Linked DNA regions of Homo sapiens: all the other regions are linked to region 1. Evidence: fine-mapped expression QTL. A gene starts in region 1. Each other region holds a variant in brackets. All regions are shown on one strand. Distances are between the middles of the regions. Region 1 holds the start of ATE1 (arginyltransferase 1). Region 2 overlaps TACC2 (transforming acidic coiled-coil containing protein 2). Region 3 overlaps NSMCE4A (NSE4A component of SMC5/6 complex). Region 4 overlaps TACC2 (transforming acidic coiled-coil containing protein 2).

Region 1 (5,036 bases):
AAGTAACTCAGCTGGGCACAGTGGCTCACGCCTGTAATCCCAGCACTTTTGGAGGCCAAGATGGGCAGATCATCTGAGGTCAGGAGTTTGAGACCAGCCTGGCCAACATGGTGAAACCCCATCTCTACTAAAAACACAAAATTAGCCGGGAATGGTGGCACATGCCTGTAATCCCAGCTACTTGGGAGGCTGAGGCAGGAGAATCGCTTGAACCCAGGAGGCGGAGGTTGCAGTGACTCGAGATCGAGCCATTGCACTCCACACTCCAGCATGGGCAACAAGAGTGAAGCTCTGTCTCAAAAAAAAAAAAAAAGAAAGAAAGAAAGAAAGTAACTCAAATGCCAAGGAACAGGAAGATGATTACAGGGGCTATGATGTTGTCAACATGATGGAATAATCACGCAACTATGAAAAAAAACGAAGACTATGAGGAAACATTTAAAGGCATATCAGAACTAAAGGCTTCATGAGGTGGTGGCTCAAGCCTATAATCCCAACACTTTGGAAGGCCAACATGGAAGATCACTTGAGGTCAGGAGTTCAAGACCAGCCTGTGCAACATACCAAATCTCTGTTTTCACAAAAAAAAAATAATAATCATAATTAATCAGGTTTTGTGGCCTGTGCCTGTGGTCCCAGCTACTTGGGAGGCTGAGGTGGGAGGAGGCTTGAGACCAGGAATTTGAGATTTGAGGCTGCAGTAAGCTATGAACACACCACTGCATTCCAGCCTGAGCAAAGGAGCAAGACTGCCTCTTAAAAAAAAAAAAAAAATTAAAGTTAAAAAAGAAATGGGCCAGGTGCAGTGGCTCATGCCTATAATCCCAGCACTTTGGGAGGCCGAGGCGGGTAGATCACCTGAGGTCGGGAGTTCAAGACCAAGCCTGGCCAACATGGTGAAACCCCGTCTCTACTAAAAATACAAAAAAATTAGCCGGCCGTGGTGGCGGGCACCTGTAATCACAGCTACTCGGGAGGCTGAGGCAGGAGAATCCCTTTAACCTGGGAGGTGGAGGTTGCAGTGAGCAAAGATTGTGCCACTGAACTCCAGCCTGGGCAACAAAAGTGAAACTGTGTCTCAAAATAAATAAATAAATAAATGGATTTTTCCCTTTTGTAAACAGTAAATCACATCAGAGATATGACAGGCTTGATAGAGCAGAATATAGTGGGAAAAGCATGGCACTGGAGTCCAACAGAAATATCCCGACACCTGGCAGGCACTCACTCACACTAAGGAGTTACCCAATAAGCCTCAATTTCATCATCTGTAAATAAAAAAATAAAACTCACCTACCAAGTAAGTAGATGCCCCATAATAAAGAGTATTAAAATTAAAATCGAGATACTAGAAATTGATGATTATTTTCTCTTGATGGAAAGGTTGCAGGCAGGTTTCTTCGACAAAACGTGAAATACAAGACATTTATGTTAGCCAATTTTCTCTTATCACAATTATTGGAAAAAAATAAGTAATGACCTATTAAAATATTAATTTTAGGCACGTTTAATGTAACTTATTGATTTGATAAATATTATAGCCAAAATACAAAAATTCTGAAAAAGAGAAGGTAGAAATCCACAATACTCTAAGGCCATATTACCACTGTCACGATTTGGTGTACTTCCGGGCCTTCTTCCTTTCAGAACTGTAATCATGTCGCATAAGCCATTTGCATCCTGTTGATTTTCTCCGTTTAAGTCCAAACTGGAAGCATTTTTCCATTTAGTCTTCATAATCCTCACTTCTAACGATTGCATAACTGTCTACTCAAAACCGCTGCCCACAAGTAGCACTTAATAAACACTTTTAATGAAGGAGCAAATGCACACACCGTTATCGACCAAATCATTCCCCACTTACACCTTTTTCATGGAAAATGCCTGTGTGTTTTCATGCGAATCTCGTTTTCCACAAAGCTAGACTGTTCTATTAAAATAATAGAGTCTACATTCTATATTGGCAAATGCATGGCAAGAGAGGAAATAAACACGATGTTTTGTTTACCAGCAACAAATCTCCCCCAAAGAAATCTGAATCACGATGGAAAAACAAAACAAACTTGTGGGCTGGCTTTGCTGTCGTCCGGGTGGGTGGAGGAAAGACACGGCATATAAGCAAATGGTAAAAATTTCAAACAGATCAGGACAAACAGAATCCCTCGCCGGTAGCGACCGCGGTCACCAGTTTCTTGTCCTTTTTTTTTTTAACTTTTTTTTTTTTTAACCCAGAGATGCAAAGGGCTCATCCTTCCTGTACATTCGTCCAGGGAAGTCTGATTCATACATGACCGGCACCTGTGTGCACACCCACAGCTCCCTCTGCACCGCGTTTCGCCCTCGCTCCCGGGACGCTCCCACCGCAGCACCCACCGGTCAGCCCCGGCCATTAACTACGGCTCTGGGGCGTTCCCTGGCACTGCGCGCCGTCCTTCACCTCACACAATCTACCCCAGACGGGCGTCCGTCTCCCGACTCTGGGGAGACCACCACGATTTCGAGAGTACGGGCACCGGTTAGGATTTTCCTGCAGAACAGGCACCGCGAAGCTGCCCCGCTAAGCCGGCGCCGCGGCCCTCCCGAGAGTGCCCCCTCCGTCTCGGCCGTGGCACTGGGGCCAGGGGCTCCGGCCCCCTCGCGTCCTCGCTGGGGGACCCTGGGATCCCGAGACCCGGGCGCCCGGCTTCCCACGCCCGCCGGCCCGGCTCGCTCACCATTGGAGCGGCTGCCCGACTCGTTCTTGCAGTAGCCGCAGCGGTAGAAGTCCTCGCTAGGGAAATAGTCCACGACGCTGGGCGAACCCCCCGCCCAGAAAGCCATGGCCTCGGCCCCGCGAACGCTCAGCCGCCCGGCCCCGCGTCGCTAGCGCGGCCGCCGCCGCCACCCCACAATGCAGCGCGCCGCCCGGGAGCCTCCCGAGGCTCGCGCGAAGCCACTCGGGCGCCCGCAGGCCCGGCCGGCCCGGCGCCTCTTGGAGCTGACGCCGCCCGCGCCATCTTGACCGAGGGCAGCTTTCCACTATTTCCGTTCCTTCTCCATAAGGGGCCGCCGTCGTCAGTGAGGGTGAGGCGGAGAGACAGAGCGGGAAGGGAAACAGGATGGGGAGAGTCAAGAGGGGAAGGGAAGCGGGAGTCGGGGTGCGAGCCTGCCCTTTCCCCCGCCGAGGGCCTGTGCGGGGCGCGGCGGCCGCGCCAACTCCGGCGTCGGGAACACTCACCGCAGGACGCTTTGCCCTCCTTGGAATCGCAGTAGCCGCAGTGGTAGCCGGCCCTGAGGCCCTTGTATTCCACCACCGACGCCATGGCCGCCGCGAGGGTCCGCTCGGGCCGACCACGCCTCTTGGCGCCCGGGGCCGACCTCGGCGAAGCGCTGGGGCCCGCGGCGGGAGGGGTGGAGAGCGAAGCCTGGCGCGGGGACCCGTGGGCGGGGATGGTGGTCGTGTCCCCAAGCCCTGCGTTTGGGCCGGTGCTTCCCACAGCTGTGCGTTATCAGCCCCATTTCACAGGTAAGGAAACTGAGGACCGGAGGTTGTGATTATCCCAAAGTCATTCCCGGCGGGTCTCGGATTGAAAGTCAGGCCGCCCCTGGCCACCGTGTAAGTGACTTGCTGGAGCTGCTTCCAGACCAGCTGGCACGCACTCCAGTGCCCTGAATACAAGAACACAAGCAGGTATTCCGTGAATGGCGAGGGTTCGCAAATTAAAGAACTCTTAACGGCTTTTAAAGGAAACAACTGTCAGCTAGAGACAGTTGCTGTCTTGTACCACTATAAGTCCGGTGCCTCATACGATTTTTAATGAGATGCTGGAAATACAGGGTTTGTTTGTTTTTTTTAACTCTACAGTCCAAACAAAACAGTTTTACAGGCTGAATCCAGCCCATGGGCCTCCATTTTGCAACCACTATTTTAAGGAAGATTTAAGGAATAAGAGTCTAGGGCAAAATATAAAATTGAGGCTCATGCCTGTAATCCCAGCACTTTGGGAGGCCGAGGCGGGCGTATCATGAGGTCAGGAGATTGAGACCATCCTGGCTAACACGTGAAACCCCGTCTCTACTAAAAATACAAAAAATCAGCCTGGCGTGGTGGTGGGCGCCTGTAGTCCCAGCTAGTCGGGAGGCTGAGGCAGGAGAATGGTGTGAACCCGGGAGGCGGAGCTTGCAGTGAGCCGAGATCACGCCGCTGCACTCCAGCCTGTGTGACAGAGCAAGACTCCATCTCAAAAAAATTTTTTAAAAAATGAGTTCCAGGGGCGGGCGCGGTGGCTCACGCCTGTAATCCCAGCACTTTGGGAGGCCGAGGCGGGTGGATCACGAGGTCAGGAGATAAGAGACCATCCTGGCTAACATGGTGAAACCCCTTCTCTACTAAAAAATACAAAAAATTAGCGGGACGTGGTGGCACGCGCCTGTAGTCCCAGCTACTCGGGAGGCTGAGGCAGGAGAATGGCGTGAACCCGGGAGGCAGAGCTTGCAGTGAGCAGAGATCGCGTCACTGCACTCCAGCCTGGGCGAAAGAGCGAGACTCCATCTCAAAAAAAAAAAAAAAGAGTTCCAACAAGGTAATATGCCTTATCTTTCCCTCTGCGTGCACAGATAATTTAAGCCTGTCTGTCCTCATAGTTTTCCCAGTCAACAATAAAGCTGATGATACAATATTGTTTTAAGTGTGTTTAAAAAAGTGAAATGAAACTCAGAGAAATAGAAATAAATTTTTGAGGTGAGTTTTGACATTCTTGACCCCAAGGGCCTGTGTTAGATATGTACCTAGCTGAAGGAGGTTTCTTGGTGGCCTGGTGACTTGTTGAAGGGGGCCAGCCCCTCCACACCTGTGGGTGTTTCTCGTCAGGTGGGACGAGAGACTGAGAAAAAAAGTAAGACACAGAGACAAAGTGTAGAGAACAGTGGGCCCAGAGGACCAGGGCTCAGCATACGGAGGACCCGCGCCAGCACTGGTCTCTGAGTTCCCTCAGTATTTATTGATCACTATCTCTACCATCTCGGTGAGGGGGATGTGGCAGGACTATAGAGTAATG
Region 2 (5,036 bases), 270 kb after region 1:
TGATGTTGGTTTTAGAAAGAAATGGGTGGAATTCTTTTTATCCGCCGTGGGTTCGAGCAGCCCGTTGTTTTGGAAAGGATGTACACTCCCGGAGCTTTGTTCCTAAACCAGCAAACCCCCGTGCTGGGACAAGGGGGCAGGACAGTTTTAATGAGAGCTGATGCCTTTGGTGGAGTCTGCCGAATACTGCTCCCATGTCCCCCGTCTTTGACGGCTCATCAGTCTGCAGCAGTGTCTGGATTTTGCTGAGTCAGTGTAGATGCCAGACTCTGGGAGGATAGTGACGGATATTTCTTTGATTTGAAAGTAGAGAAGAGCCAGGAGGGCTGTCTGTAGTTCTCAGAGCATCGTTTGCATCTCTTCCTTTATTTTGTATGACCAAGCATATAAAACTGTATTTCTCGTAATATTTTTAAAAACTTACCCATAATTTTTAATGGAAAGTGGCTGGATGACAAACACATTGTAATCTCTAGGTCAAATGTGTGATTAAGAATAAACTATTCTGGCCGAGGCGGGCAGATCATGAGGTCAGGAGATGGAGACCATCCTGGCCAATACGGTGAAACCCCATCTCCGTTAAAAATACAAAAAATTAGCTGGGCGTGGTGGCGGGCACCTGTAGTCCCAGCTACTCGGGAGGCTGAGGCAGGAGAATGGTGTGAACCCAGGAGGCGGAGTTTGCAGTGAGCGGAGATCACACCACTGCACTCCAGCCTGGGTGACAGAGCGAGTCCGTCTCAAAAAAAAAAAAAAAAAACAAAAAAACAAAGAATAAACTATGCTTGGCCGGGCATGGTGGCTCACGCCTGTAATCCCAGCACTCTGGGAGGCCAAGGAGGGTGGATCACCTGAGGTCGGGAGTTCGAGACCAGCCTGCCCAACATAGTGAAACCCCGTCTCTACTAAAAATACAGAAATTAGCCAGGCATGGTGCCGCACGCCTGTAGTCCCAGCTACTCAGGAGGCTGAGGCAGGAGAATCGCTTGAACCCGGGAGGTGGAGGTTGCAGTGAGCCGAGACCATGCCACTGCACTCCAGCCTGGGTGACAGAACCGGACTCTGTCTCAAAATAAACAAACAAACAAATGTTTAGAAGAAAATGATAGCATGTTATAGGGCATGTACCATCCCCAGCACCAAGGAGTGTGCGGAGAGGCCACTTGTGGCCACAGGTGCGTCTTCTGGGATTCCCAGTCCGACATCCTGCCAGCTCTGGGATGAATGGGATGCCACTCTGTTCTCTTCTTTGATCCTGTCCTTCTTCCTTCTGCCTAACTTCCTTTCAACAAAGCAGAGAACAATCTCCATTCTTAAAACGAACACGCACAACATCCATCTTTTTCTTAGATGGCAGTTACTAAAAGAATGAGCATTATTGAGGATTAAAAGATAACCCCCACCAGGGAAGGGGATGGAAACGTTAATTGCTGTGGAGTCACAGCCCCTCAGAACCTTGGATTACACCAATTGGAGTGTTTGAACGGGGACTTTATGTTTCTCCTCCTTTGAAAACGGCAGCAAGGCTAGCTGTGTGAGGATTGTACACTCAGGAGACTTACGGTTGGAACTGTGTCTGCTGAAAGCCCCCCTAGCTTGGGCTGTACAAAGATCCATTTGATTTGCTGCCCTGGTTAGAAAACCGCCTCCCAGGCGGAGGGTCCCCTCGTCCATTCTGTAGACCAGCATGGGGCATTACGAAGGCGTGGGAAGGCAGCTGTGCTTGCTAGTGTAGGTGGCTGTAGGAGAAGAAAGATTTGTTCTCTCAACCATAGGAAAGAAGGGTACCAGGGGAAAATCTATTGTTTACTTTCCTCTGCACAGTGCCCGGGATGTTGCGAAAGGTGCTGTGGGAACCACGTGAATTAATACACAACACCTTTGGCTGTGAATAAAGATGGTTTTTCCCCCTGGCAACCTACATTTTATAAAGCACTCACTTGCCCTACATTGGGTCCTACCAGCGTGTCTGGGCTCCCTGGGATGGAAGATGTGTGGGCCAGAGCAGTCCCATGAGCCTGTCCTGAGGGCTGTAGCCTGGACCACACTCCTGAGGCAGAAGATGGGGCAAAGGATTGCACCTGCTGCCAGCTGGGGCGGGCCAGGACTCAGCTCATCTGAACGCAGTTCCCTTATCTGTGAAATGAAGAGGGTGATCTGTGGGTCCCTTCAGATCCTTCCAGCTCCGGCCTCCCGAGGTCCTGTGAAGGGAATGGTTGGCTGATGTACAGTGACCGTGTTATTAGAACTCAAAACCGGCCACCAAGGGTCATAATTACATGTCATGTAATTAAATAATAGCTCCCATTCAAGCATTTGCCTTGTCAGGGCTATGCTAGGTCCTCTGAGTGTTTCATCTCCCACTCAGGTGAGGGAGGATCAGCCGTATGCACACAGCATCCCTGTATAGTGGATGTCTTCCCCTGATTCCCCAGTGACACGCGGAGGTTACGAACCTCATACGCCATCTCACAGCGATAAGGGGACTCTGGTGTCAGAACCCAGGCCTCCCCACTTCCAAGCCCGGCTCCCTTCCATTTGGAACCAGACTGCTCTCTGCGCAGGTACAGTGAGCTGGTGCCTTTGTGCGCCTAGCCTGGGGCAGGCCCTTAGTAGGTGTTGAGTGAAAGTTGTTGCTGGACCTGCTGTTGCTTAGATGTGTGCTGGGGCAGTCCTGCCAGCCTGTCCTGAGAGCTGCAGCCTAGGCCACGCCCCCGAGGCAAAGGATGGGGCAAAGGATTGCGAGTCAGTGGGTGATCAGTGGGGGCGACATGGCAGGAGAGCTGAGGCAGGTCCATTCTGACAGTTGCCCACCTGCCCTTCAGGGACATTGTTCAGCATTGGGGAATGCAGCTTCTTTACTCATTCTTGCTAGGAGATTGCCAAGCCCAGGGAAAGGCCCGTGTTGGGGCCTTGGAGGTAATGGGGGCCTCCCTGTGCCCTGCGTGCCTATACCTTTCCTCTGTCT[C/G]CCAGGACATGGTCCCCAGGCACTGATTGTGGCACTGCACCTGGGGGCCCGAGCCATTGAGCCAAGGGTATACAGATTCACAGCCACCAGATCCAAGCACCAGTGTCCTCGCCAGGCACTCGTTGTGCTCTAAGTGGCTGTTTGTGGACAGCTGTCCTCACATTGACTTGGAATGGAGCTCAGTGCCCAGCCTGGCTGCAGAGCACACAGTGGCTTCCCTTTTCTTTGGGCCCGCCTCTGGTTTTCGTATACACTGTCACCTGCTTTTGTCTCCAAAGAGGCCATACGTGGGTGCTCCCTGTAGCCACGGGAGACTTCCTGGCATGGGGTGGGGCATCCCAGAATCCAGCTGAGGCCCTTCCCAGCCTGGGGCAGGGGCACAGGGGTGGGTGTCACCATGGCGTGTGAAGAGCAGGGGGCTGTGGTTGCCTTTTCCTGACACCTGCTATGACCTGGGCCAGGTGCTTACAGACTCTCCCTCTTCACCCACACAAGAATTCCCTATGACAGCTGATGACAGCACACTGTCTTAGGTCTGATCACACGGCTATCAACGTAACCATAGACCAGGTACCTGTTAGCAACAGAAATGTATTGCTTACAGTTCTGGAGGCTGGGAAGTCCAAGCTCAGGGCACTGGCAGATTTGGTGTCTAGTGAGGACCTGCTTTCTGTTCATAGACAGCACCTCCTCCCTGTGTCCTGACATGGTGAAAGGACACACAGTCTTCCTCAGTCCTCTTTCGTAAGGGCACTAATCCACTCATGAGGACACTGCCCCCATGAGCTCATCACCTCCCAAAGGCCCCACCTCCTGATACCATCACCTTATATGAGGATTTCAACATAGGAATTTCGGGGACACACACATTCGGACCAGAGCACACAGCAAGCTGAGGGCCGAGCCTTTTCAGGCCTGGATCTGGCTGCCACAGGCACTCGGGCCCTCTTGGGCCGGCTGCTCCCTCTTCACAATGTGAGTGTTTCATGGGCCCAGGACCAGGGAACAGGTGAGACCACTGGAGATTCTGATGCAGTCCAGGCAGAGGCTGGCACTGCACCTGGGGGCCCTGGCCATCGAGCCAGGGGTATATGGGTTCACAGCCACCAGATCCAAGCCCCGTTCATCCCAGGCTGGAAGGACGATGGAGAGTTTGGGGCCTGCATAGAGCCAGGTGAGGAGACATGAGAGGATGGCGACCTCACCTGCCCACAGTGGCCACATCTACAGTGAGAGGACGGGCACCTCACCTGCCCACAGTGGCTGTGTTCACATGGGGAGGACAGTTACCTCACCTGCCCACAGTGGCCACATCTACAGTGAGAGGACGGGCACCTCACCTGCCCACAGTGGCTGTGTTCACATGGGGAGGACAGTTACCTCACCTGCCCACAGTGGCTGCGTTCACATGGGGAGGACGGCCACCTCACCTGCCCACAGTGGCCACATCTACAGTGAGAGGACGGCCACCTCACCTGCCCACAGTGGCCACATTTACAGTGAGAGGATGGCCACCTCACCTGCCCACAGTGGCCATGTTCACATGGGGAGGACGGCGACCTCACCTGCCCACAGTGGCCGTGTTCACATGGGGAGGACGGCCACCTCACCTGCCCACAGTGGCCATGTTCACATGGGGAGGACGGCGACCTCACCTGCCCACAGTGGCCACATCTACACTGAGAGGATGGCGACCTCACCTGCCCACAGTGGCCACATCTACACTGAGAGGACGACCACCTCACCTGCGCACAGTGGCTGTGTTCACACGGGGAGGACAGCGACCTCACCCGCCCACAGTGGCCACATCTACAGTGAGAGGACGGCCACCTCACCCGCCCAGAGTGGCCACATCTACAGTGAGAGGACGGCCACCTCACCCGCCCACAGTGGCCACATCTACAGTGAGAGGACGGCCACCTCACCTGCCCACAGTGGCCACATCTACAGTGAGAGGACGGCCACCTCACCTGCCCACAGTGGCCACATCTACAGTCAGAGGACGGCCACCTCACCTGCCCACAGTGGCCACATCTACAGTGAGAGGATGGCCACCTCACCCGCCCAC
Region 3 (5,036 bases), 38 kb after region 1:
ATAATGAGGGGAGGTGGAACAGCTACTTTTGACATTTCTCACTTGAATGGCATATTTCATTTTGTAACAAAAAAAATCCCCATCTTTTAAAGATAAAAATGAAAACGTTAACTTCAAAGTTTTCACATGAAATTTCTAAAGGGGAGAAGAATCCTCATAAAATGCATATGTATTTATTCAAATATTACATACAGCTGAAATTGCCTTTTAAATACAAGTAACCTCAGTGAACAGATAAATACAAATTGCTCCACTTTGAATGGTGTTACACTTACGATCTTCTCGAAAATATGTCTGCAACAATCCCAAGATTCTTTCTACTTCTTTCTCTGTTGCTTCTTGATGAGATTCTTCCATTCTTCTTAACTGAAAAAAGTCATTATCAAGCTGACAGACCTACTTACTGGCCTATTAACGTTTTCTTCTCTCTTGCACACCCAAACTCCTTTTCTTCTCTCTTGCACACCCGAACTCTTTTTTTTTTTTGAGACAGGGTCTTGCTTTGCCACCCAGGCTAGAGTGCAGTTGCATGATCTCGGCTCACTGTAACCTCAGACTCCTGTGCTCAAGGGATCCTACCACCTCAGCTTCTTGAGTAGCTGGCACTAGAAGCGTGCACCACTACACCTGGCTAATTTTTTTTTTTTTAATTCATTCTACCTTGTCTAAGACACCTGGCTAATTAAAAAAAATTTTTTTAGATATGGGGTCTTGCTGACCATCCTGGCTAACACGGTGAAACCCCATCTCTACTAAAAATACAAAAACTTAGCCAGGTGTGGTGACAGGCGCCTGTACTCCCAGCTACTCAGGAGGCTGAGGCAGGAGAATGGCATGAACCCGGGAGGCGGAGCTTGCAGTGAGCCGACATCGCGCCTGTAATCCCTGCGCTGTAGGAGGCTGAGGCAGGTGGATCACAAGGTCAGGAGTTCGAGACCAGCCTGGCCATTATGGTGAAACCGTCTCTATTAAAAAACACCAAAATTAGCCGGGCATGGTGGTGCCTGCCTGTAATCCCAGCTACTTGGGAGGCTGAGGCAGGAGAATGGCTTGAACCCAGCAGGCGGAGGTTGCAGTGAGCCGAGATCGCGCCACTGCACTCCAGCCCGGGTGATAGGGCAAGACTCTGTCTCAAAAAAAATTATGGTTTAAAAAAAAACAGATTTTCTGGTTTCAGTAACTTTTTTTTTTTTTTTTTGAGATGGAGTCTTGCTCTGTGGCCCAGGCTGGAGTGCAGTGGTGCCATCTCGGCTCACTGCAACCTCCGCTTCCCAGGTTCAAGCAATTCTCCTACCTCAGCCTCCAGAGTAGCTGGGATTAGAGGCACCCACCACCACATCTGGCTAATTTTTTGTACTTTTTAGTAGAGACAGGGTTTCACCATGTTGGCCAGGCTGGTTTCTAACTCCTGACCTCAGGTGGATCTGCCCGCCTTGGCCTCCCAAAGTGCTGGGATTACAGGCGTAAGCCACCACACTCGGGCAACCTTTGTTTTTTTTGAGACGGACTCTCGCTCTGTCGCCCAGGCTGGAGTACAGTGGCATGATCTCGGCTCAGTGCAACCTCTGCCTCCTAGATTCCTAATTCTCCTGCGTCAGCCTCCCGAATAGCCCGGACTACAGGCACCTGCCACCATACCTAGCTAATTTCTGTATTTTTAGTAGAGACGGGGTTTCCCCGTATTGGCCGGGCTGGTCTCGAACTCCTGACCTTGTGATCTGCCCGCCTCGGCCTCCCAAAGTGCTGGGATTACAGGCGTAAGCCACTGTGCCTGGCCTCAGTAACATTTTCATATCAATTTCTTAATAGAATAGTAACATTACCAGATTAACCATTTTCAGGTTGAACATAAAATAGCAAAATACAAAAGGGCGGTTTAGAAACAGTGGTTCTCGAGTGGGTGTGACTTTCCCCCCACCTCCCCAGGGAACATTTGTTGTCACATGTAGACATTTTTGGTTGTCACAACTCAGGGGTCGGGGGGGCTATTAGCATATAACAGGTAGAGGCTGGGGATGCCGCTAAGCATCCTACAATGCGCAGGACAGCTCCCCAAACCAACATTATCCAGCCGTAAATGTTGACAGTGCTGAGGTTGACCCTGGCTTCGGAGAACTGATCAAAACTAGAGAAATGAGTTAAAACAAAGACAAGCAGCCAATCCAATAAAATGCTTAAAGGCTTAAATAAAATGATTATTTAAGTGACAAAACCTGGCTCCAGACCCGCACACTTAGAAAAAATGGCCAAATTGCATGCACATTATTTTAACAGCTATTTTAACTTTAATGTGTTTTTTTAAAAGCAACATTTTAAAACAAACCTGGGCAGGCATTGCCCTCTCCTCTTGTATCACAGGAACTTTTCTTGGACGATCAACTCGTGGCTTTGGCACAGGGCACTCTCCGTATATTGAACCCAACCTAATGAAAAGTATGCTTTCATTTATTTTTTTTGCCTGTTGTTTGTTAAACAAACTAACTTTACTAACTAAAAGTAGTTTGCATGGTATAGTCAAATTCAGACCAGACATCAGTGATATACAAGCTGACATCAGAGTAAGACTCTTGATAAGGTTTGTGACAGCCTTTCTGCCTTCTTTGTATTTCTAAAAGAACTCCTAGGAGCTTTACTCAACCACAGATACCTCCTCAGACACCTACATACTGCCCTGTAAAGTAGGCCAGTGAATATGCCTGTGACATCTTCCCAC[C/A]ACCCAACCTATTGTTTTGCAAAGCCAACTTCTAAGAGCAGGGGAAGGATGAACATGTATGTGGGGAAGCTCCAGTGGGGTCAGAAGACTTTGATCTGGGGAGGCCAAGGCAGAGGCTCCCAGCCCAGGACTACAGAACACATCTGTCTTAGGATAACAGGGCAAGTCACAGCCATGGGATTCCTTTTCCTTCTGGATTCTGCCCTCATGCAGACTTGGGTTACAGTAATAGATGTAAGTCTGCATCATGTAGAGATCAAAGCCCCAAGAATAAGGCTCATGTGGTCCCTACCCTTGAGGAGACAAAAATATACGATGTAGATGGACAGCTGCATTATGCACACAGATCCATTTCAATATAACATGGTGGGCTACTCTGGGAACACTCCTGCTCCACAAGGAGCAGTATAAAAAAATAAATTAATCAAATTTTAAAAAAGCAACATGGTAGATCCTGGGCGCTTAGAGAGTACTGCTCAAGTGCTATGAGAACACTTGGGCAGAGATATCTACCCAGACATGGGAGTGACGTGGTTGAGAAATCTGATCCTACACTGCTAACACCTCTGTCTGGAGAAGTTGCTGGAGGCTTCCAAGATGGGGCCTGTGGGATAAACAAACTTTACCGAATGGAAAAGATGAAAAGGAATTGGAGGCCAAGAGAACAGCAAGTACAAAGACACAGAGTTTTAAGTACTTCATTGTGGCTGGAAATTGGGCTGGATGATGAGATAAAGTTTAAGGCTTTATCTTTATAACCTAGGATTTATGAGTTTAGTACAATAGCAAAAAACAAAGATTTAGACTTTATCCTAAGATGAAGAAGTTTGGACTACATCCTATTAAATAGAACATACACAAATGGCTCTGGGCACCTGAGTTACCTGAAGTCTTATTAAAAATAGATGCCAGACCCCACACCACACTACTACATTGGCATCTCCAAGGCCTTCTACCCGAGCTACTATCAATCTCAATGGTTTTTAGAAAGACAAATTAGAAAAGACAAAAGCCCAGGAGCTATACCACTTAAAGAAGGACTGAACAACTCAGATGGCTACCCTAAAGTATTTACTGGGCAACAAAACCAGTATACTTGAAGGTCCTCTTAGAGAAGAGCCAGTAAGAGCTGTTCTTAATTTCTCCATAGGACCATGCCAGGAAGTTAAGACAGAAGCCAACTTCATTCAAATATAAAGAAATCTTTTTTTTAAATCAGAGTTCTATCTAAAAAATGAACTGGACAGTTTATGTGGCAGTGACAAGTAATCTTCAAATACAAGTCAGTGGTCATCTAACAGGGTATTATAATAAATGTCACTTTAGACGTTGGGAGACTCATAAGATACCCTCAGTAGGAGGTATCATCCTCCTATATGATAAGGATTTTAAAGATGATAAACCCAGAGTCTCATGAGCTAGAAGCAAAGGAGCCAGGAGAGCACTGGTAAAGAGGTTCTGGCCTTTTCTGCTAAAGCAGAATGAGAGATCCTTTAAGGTTCCATCCACATCTAGAGTTTATGGACTTTTTTTTCTTTTTTGAGACAGGGTCTCACTGTCAGCCAGGCCGGAGTGCAATGGCGCAATCTCAGCTCACTGCAATCTCTGCCTCCCAGGCTCAAGTGATCCTCCCACCTCAGCCTCCCAAGTAGCCAGGACCACAGGCATGGGCCACTACAGCGGGCTAATTTTTTGTATTTTTGGTAGAGATGGGTTCTCGCCATGTTGCCCAGGCTGATCTTGAATTCCTGAGCTCAGATGATCTACCTGCATCCACCTGCCAAAGTGCCGGGATTACAGGCATGAGCCACCACACCCGGCCTAGTGTTTATGAACTTTCATATCAAAGTTTCAAAAGTCTCCAAACAACGGCATCATGACTGTCACCTCTACAATACCAAATAATCTTTGTCCCTACAAGAAAAAGCAATTTAAGGTTCACAAATAACTGGTCTGTTGGATTTTTAAAATAATCTTACAGAAAGTGGAATGTATGGGTTTTATTAAAGGTGTTTTCTGCTGTTCTGCCTGTTATCTTCCAGGAGTCATAGACTATGAATTCAAAATCAGGACTATCTTCATCACGGATGAGTTCTTCAGCTTCTAGCGGATTTACACCCATATGTGTGAGCTACAAAAATGAAGGAAAACAAAAAACCCAGTTAAGCCACATGCAATCATTTTCCACATCCAATAATCCGCATCACTCAACCTTTAAGAGGCCAGACGCAAAGCCAGCTTTCAGTGTCTTAACATGCTGGCTAAATTTCTTACTGTGAAGATAACTTTACAGTTAAAGTCCTGCTTCCAAAGCTACCTTCTT
Region 4 (5,036 bases), 160 kb after region 1:
AGCGAGAGCACCCCTCGTCCTCCATGCCCTTTGCCGAGTGTCCCCCGGAAGGTTGCTTGGCAAGTCCAGCAGCGGCACCTGAAGATGGTCCTCAGACTCAGTCTCCCAGGAGGGAACCTGCCCCAAATGCCCCAGGAGACATCGCGGCGGCATTTCCCGCTGAGAGGGACAGCTCTACTCCATACCAAGAGATTGCTGCCGTCCCCAGTGCTGGAAGAGAGAGACAGCCGAAGGAAGAAGGACAGAAGTCCTCCTTCTCCTTCTCCAGTGGCATCGACCAGTCACCTGGAATGTCGCCAGTACCCCTCAGAGAGCCAATGAAGGCACCGCTGTGTGGAGAGGGGGACCAGCCTGGTGGTTTTGAGTCCCAAGAGAAAGAGGCTGCAGGTGGCTTTCCCCCTGCAGAGTCCAGGCAGGGGGTGGCTTCTGTGCAAGTGACCCCTGAGGCCCCTGCTGCAGCCCAGCAGGGCACAGAAAGCTCAGCGGTCTTGGAGAAGTCCCCCCTAAAACCCATGGCCCCGATCCCACAAGATCCAGCCCCAAGAGCCTCAGACAGAGAAAGAGGCCAAGGGGAGGCGCCGCCTCAGTATTTAACAGATGACTTGGAATTCCTCAGGGCCTGCCATCTCCCTAGGAGCAATTCAGGGGCTGCCCCAGAAGCAGAAGTGAATGCCGCTTCCCAGGAGAGCTGCCAGCAGCCAGTGGGAGCATATCTGCCGCACGCAGAGCTGCCCTGGGGCTTGCCAAGTCCTGCCCTGGTGCCAGAGGCTGGGGGCTCTGGGAAGGAGGCTCTGGACACCATTGATGTTCAGGGTCACCCACAGACAGGGATGCGAGGAACCAAGCCCAATCAAGTTGTCTGTGTGGCAGCAGGCGGCCAGCCCGAAGGGGGTTTGCCTGTGAGCCCTGAACCTTCCCTGCTCACTCCGACTGAGGAAGCACATCCAGCTTCAAGCCTCGCTTCATTCCCAGCTGCTCAGATTCCTATTGCTGTAGAAGAACCTGGATCATCATCCAGGGAATCAGTTTCCAAGGCTGGGATGCCAGTTTCTGCAGATGCAGCCAAAGAGGTGGTGGATGCAGGGTTGGTGGGACTGGAGAGGCAGGTGTCAGATCTTGGAAGCAAGGGAGAGCATCCAGAAGGGGACCCTGGAGAGGTTCCTGCCCCATCACCCCAGGAGAGGGGAGAGCACTTGAACACGGAGCAAAGCCATGAGGTCCAACCAGGAGTACCACCCCCTCCTCTTCCCAAGGAGCAAAGCCATGAGGTCCAACCAGGAGCACCACCCCCTCCTCTTCCCAAGGCACCAAGTGAAAGTGCCAGAGGGCCACCGGGGCCAACGGATGGAGCCAAGGTCCATGAAGATTCCACAAGCCCAGCCGTGGCTAAAGAAGGAAGCAGATCACCTGGTGACAGCCCTGGAGGAAAGGAGGAAGCCCCAGAGCCACCTGATGGTGGAGACCCAGGGAACCTGCAAGGAGAGGACTCTCAGGCTTTCAGCAGCAAGCGTGATCCAGAAGTAGGCAAAGATGAGCTTTCAAAGCCAAGCAGTGATGCAGAGAGCAGAGACCATCCCAGCTCACACTCAGCACAGCCACCCAGAAAGGGGGGTGCTGGGCACACGGACGGGCCCCACTCTCAGACAGCAGAGGCTGATGCATCTGGCCTACCACACAAGCTGGGTGAGGAGGACCCCGTCCTGCCCCCTGTGCCAGATGGAGCTGGTGAGCCCACTGTTCCCGAAGGAGCCATCTGGGAGGGGTCAGGATTGCAGCCCAAATGTCCTGACACCCTTCAGAGCAGGGAAGGATTGGGAAGAATGGAGTCTTTCCTGACTTTAGAATCAGAGAAATCAGATTTTCCACCAACTCCTGTTGCAGAGGTTGCACCCAAAGCCCAGGAAGGTGAGAGCACATTGGAAATAAGGAAGATGGGCAGCTGTGATGGGGAGGGCTTGCTGACGTCCCCAGATCAACCCCGCGGGCCGGCGTGTGATGCGTCGAGACAGGAATTTCATGCTGGGGTGCCACATCCCCCCCAGGGGGAGAACTTGGCAGCAGACCTGGGGCTCACGGCACTCATCCTGGACCAAGATCAGCAGGGAATCCCATCCTGCCCAGGGGAAGGCTGGATAAGAGGAGCTGCATCCGAGTGGCCCCTACTATCTTCTGAGAAGCATCTCCAGCCATCCCAGGCACAACCAGAGACATCCATCTTTGACGTGCTCAAGGAGCAGGCCCAGCCACCTGAAAATGGGAAAGAGACTTCTCCAAGCCATCCAGGTTTTAAGGACCAGGGAGCAGATTCTTCCCAAATCCATGTACCTGTGGAACCTCAGGAAGATAACAACTTGCCCACTCATGGAGGACAGGAGCAGGCTTTGGGATCAGAACTTCAAAGTCAGCTCCCCAAAGGCACCCTGTCTGATACTCCAACTTCATCTCCCACTGACATGGTTTGGGAGAGTTCTCTGACAGAAGAGTCAGAATTGTCAGCACCAACGAGACAGAAGTTGCCTGCACTAGGGGAGAAGCGGCCAGAGGGAGCATGCGGTGATGGTCAGTCCTCGAGGGTCTCGCCTCCAGCAGCAGATGTCTTAAAAGACTTTTCTCTTGCAGGGAACTTCAGCAGAAAGGAAACTTGCTGCACTGGGCAGGGGCCAAACAAGTCTCAACAGGCATTGGCTGATGCCTTGGAAGAAGGCAGCCAGCATGAAGAAGCATGTCAAAGGCATCCAGGAGCTTCTGAAGCAGCTGATGGTTGTTCCCCACTCTGGGGCTTGAGTAAGAGGGAGATGGCAAGTGGAAACACAGGGGAGGCCCCACCTTGTCAGCCTGACTCAGTAGCTCTCCTGGATGCAGTTCCCTGCCTGCCAGCCCTGGCGCCC[G/A]CCAGCCCCGGAGTCACACCCACCCAGGATGCCCCAGAGACAGAGGCATGTGATGAAACCCAGGAAGGCAGGCAGCAACCAGTGCCGGCCCCGCAGCAGAAAATGGAGTGCTGGGCCACTTCGGATGCAGAGTCCCCAAAGCTTCTTGCAAGTTTCCCATCAGCTGGGGAGCAAGGTGGTGAAGCCGGGGCTGCTGAGACTGGTGGCAGCGCTGGTGCAGGAGACCCAGGAAAGCAGCAGGCTCCGGAGAAACCTGGAGAAGCTACTTTGAGTTGTGGCCTCCTTCAGACTGAGCACTGCCTTACCTCCGGGGAGGAAGCTTCTACCTCTGCCCTACGTGAGTCCTGCCAAGCTGAGCACCCCATGGCCAGCTGCCAGGATGCCTTGCTGCCAGCCAGAGAGCTGGGTGGGATTCCCAGGAGCACCATGGATTTTTCTACACACCAGGCTGTCCCAGACCCAAAGGAGCTCCTGCTGTCTGGGCCACCAGAAGTGGCTGCTCCTGACACCCCTTACCTGCATGTCGACAGTGCTGCCCAGAGAGGAGCAGAAGACAGTGGAGTGAAAGCTGTTTCCTCTGCAGACCCCAGAGCTCCTGGCGAAAGCCCCTGTCCTGTAGGGGAGCCCCCACTTGCCTTGGAAAATGCTGCCTCCTTGAAGCTGTTTGCTGGCTCCCTCGCCCCCCTGTTGCAACCAGGAGCTGCAGGTGGGGAAATCCCTGCAGTGCAAGCCAGCAGTGGTAGTCCCAAAGCCAGAACCACTGAGGGACCAGTGGACTCCATGCCATGCCTGGACCGGATGCCACTTCTGGCCAAGGGCAAGCAGGCAACAGGGGAAGAGAAAGCAGCAACAGCTCCAGGTGCAGGTGCCAAGGCCAGTGGGGAGGGCATGGCAGGTGATGCAGCAGGAGAGACAGAGGGCAGCATGGAGAGGATGGGAGAGCCTTCCCAGGACCCAAAGCAGGGCACATCAGGTGGTGTGGACACAAGCTCTGAGCAAATCGCCACCCTCACTGGCTTCCCAGACTTCAGGGAGCACATCGCCAAGATCTTCGAGAAGCCTGTGCTCGGAGCCCTGGCCACACCTGGAGAAAAGGCAGGAGCTGGGAGGAGTGCAGTGGGTAAAGACCTCACCAGGCCATTGGGCCCAGAGAAGCTTCTAGATGGGCCTCCAGGAGTGGATGTCACCCTTCTCCCTGCACCTCCTGCTCGACTCCAGGTGGAGAAGAAGCAACAGTTGGCTGGAGAGGCTGAGATTTCCCATCTGGCTCTGCAAGATCCAGCTTCAGACAAGCTTCTGGGTCCAGCAGGGCTGACCTGGGAGCGGAACTTGCCAGGTGCCGGTGTGGGGAAGGAGATGGCAGGTGTCCCACCCACACTGAGGGAAGACGAGAGGCCAGAGGGGCCTGGGGCAGCCTGGCCAGGCCTGGAAGGCCAGGCTTACTCACAGCTGGAGAGGAGCAGGCAGGAATTAGCTTCAGGTCTTCCTTCACCAGCAGCTACTCAGGAGCTCCCTGTGGAGAGAGCTGCTGCCTTCCAGGTGGCTCCCCATAGCCATGGAGAAGAGGCCGTGGCCCAAGACAGAATTCCTTCTGGAAAGCAGCACCAGGAAACATCTGCCTGCGACAGTCCACATGGAGAAGATGGTCCCGGGGACTTTGCTCACACAGGGGTTCCAGGACATGTGCCAAGGTCCACGTGTGCCCCTTCTCCTCAGAGGGAGGTTTTGACTGTGCCTGAGGCCAACAGTGAGCCCTGGACCCTTGACACGCTTGGGGGTGAAAGGAGACCCGGAGTCACTGCTGGCATCTTGGAAATGCGAAATGCCCTGGGCAACCAGAGCACCCCTGCACCACCAACTGGAGAAGTGGCAGACACTCCCCTGGAGCCTGGCAAGGTGGCAGGCGCTGCTGGGGAAGCAGAGGGTGACATCACCCTGAGCACAGCTGAGACACAGGCATGTGCGTCCGGTGATCTGCCTGAAGCAGGTACTACGAGGACATTCTCCGTTGTGGCAGGTGACTTGGTGCTGCCAGGAAGCTGTCAGGACCCAGCCTGCTCTGACAAGGCTCCGGGGATGGAGGGTACAGCTGCCCTTCATGGGGACAGCCCAGCCAGGCCCCAGCAGGCTAAGGAGCAGCCAGGGCCT

Evidence for each region. PIP is the estimated chance that this variant, and not a neighbour inherited with it, causes the effect.
Region 2: its variant is the best candidate, but not a certain one, in a credible set for the expression of ATE1 in thyroid (GTEx, PIP 0.80).
Region 3: its variant is the best candidate, but not a certain one, in a credible set for the expression of ATE1 in tibial artery (GTEx, PIP 0.70).
Region 4: its variant is the best candidate, but not a certain one, in a credible set for the expression of ATE1 in sun-exposed skin (GTEx, PIP 0.63).

Annotation. Positions count from the first base shown.
Region 1 is chr10:121,925,130-121,930,165 of GRCh38, forward strand. It overlaps ATE1 (arginyltransferase 1), which reads right to left and starts at 2,902. Exons shown (of 12, transcript NM_001001976.3): 1 at 2,715-2,902. The coding sequence starts at 2,820. It also overlaps the pseudogene ATE1OSP. RefSeq lists enhancers at 2,114-2,263, 2,802-3,668 and silencers at 2,574-2,993, 3,184-3,483.
Region 2 is chr10:122,196,192-122,201,227 of GRCh38, forward strand. The region is part of intron 8 of TACC2 (transforming acidic coiled-coil containing protein 2); the gene reads left to right. Among named protein-coding and RNA genes, the nearest start is that of BTBD16, 73 kb to the right of the region's middle. RefSeq lists enhancers at 1-311, 3,798-4,743, 4,744-5,036. The variant C/G (reference allele first, on the strand shown) is at 2,969.
Region 3 is chr10:121,962,963-121,967,998 of GRCh38, forward strand. NSMCE4A (NSE4A component of SMC5/6 complex) reads right to left here. Exons shown (of 11, transcript NM_017615.3): 4 at 4,693-4,844; 5 at 2,324-2,423; 6 at 276-366. Among named protein-coding and RNA genes, the nearest start is that of NSMCE4A, 9.7 kb to the right of the region's middle. The variant C/A (reference allele first, on the strand shown) is at 2,714.
Region 4 is chr10:122,082,808-122,087,843 of GRCh38, forward strand. It overlaps TACC2 (transforming acidic coiled-coil containing protein 2), which reads left to right. Exons shown (of 23, transcript NM_206862.4): 4 at 1-5,036. Among named protein-coding and RNA genes, the nearest start is that of TACC2, 96 kb to the left of the region's middle. RefSeq lists an enhancer at 2,659-3,160. The variant G/A (reference allele first, on the strand shown) is at 2,889.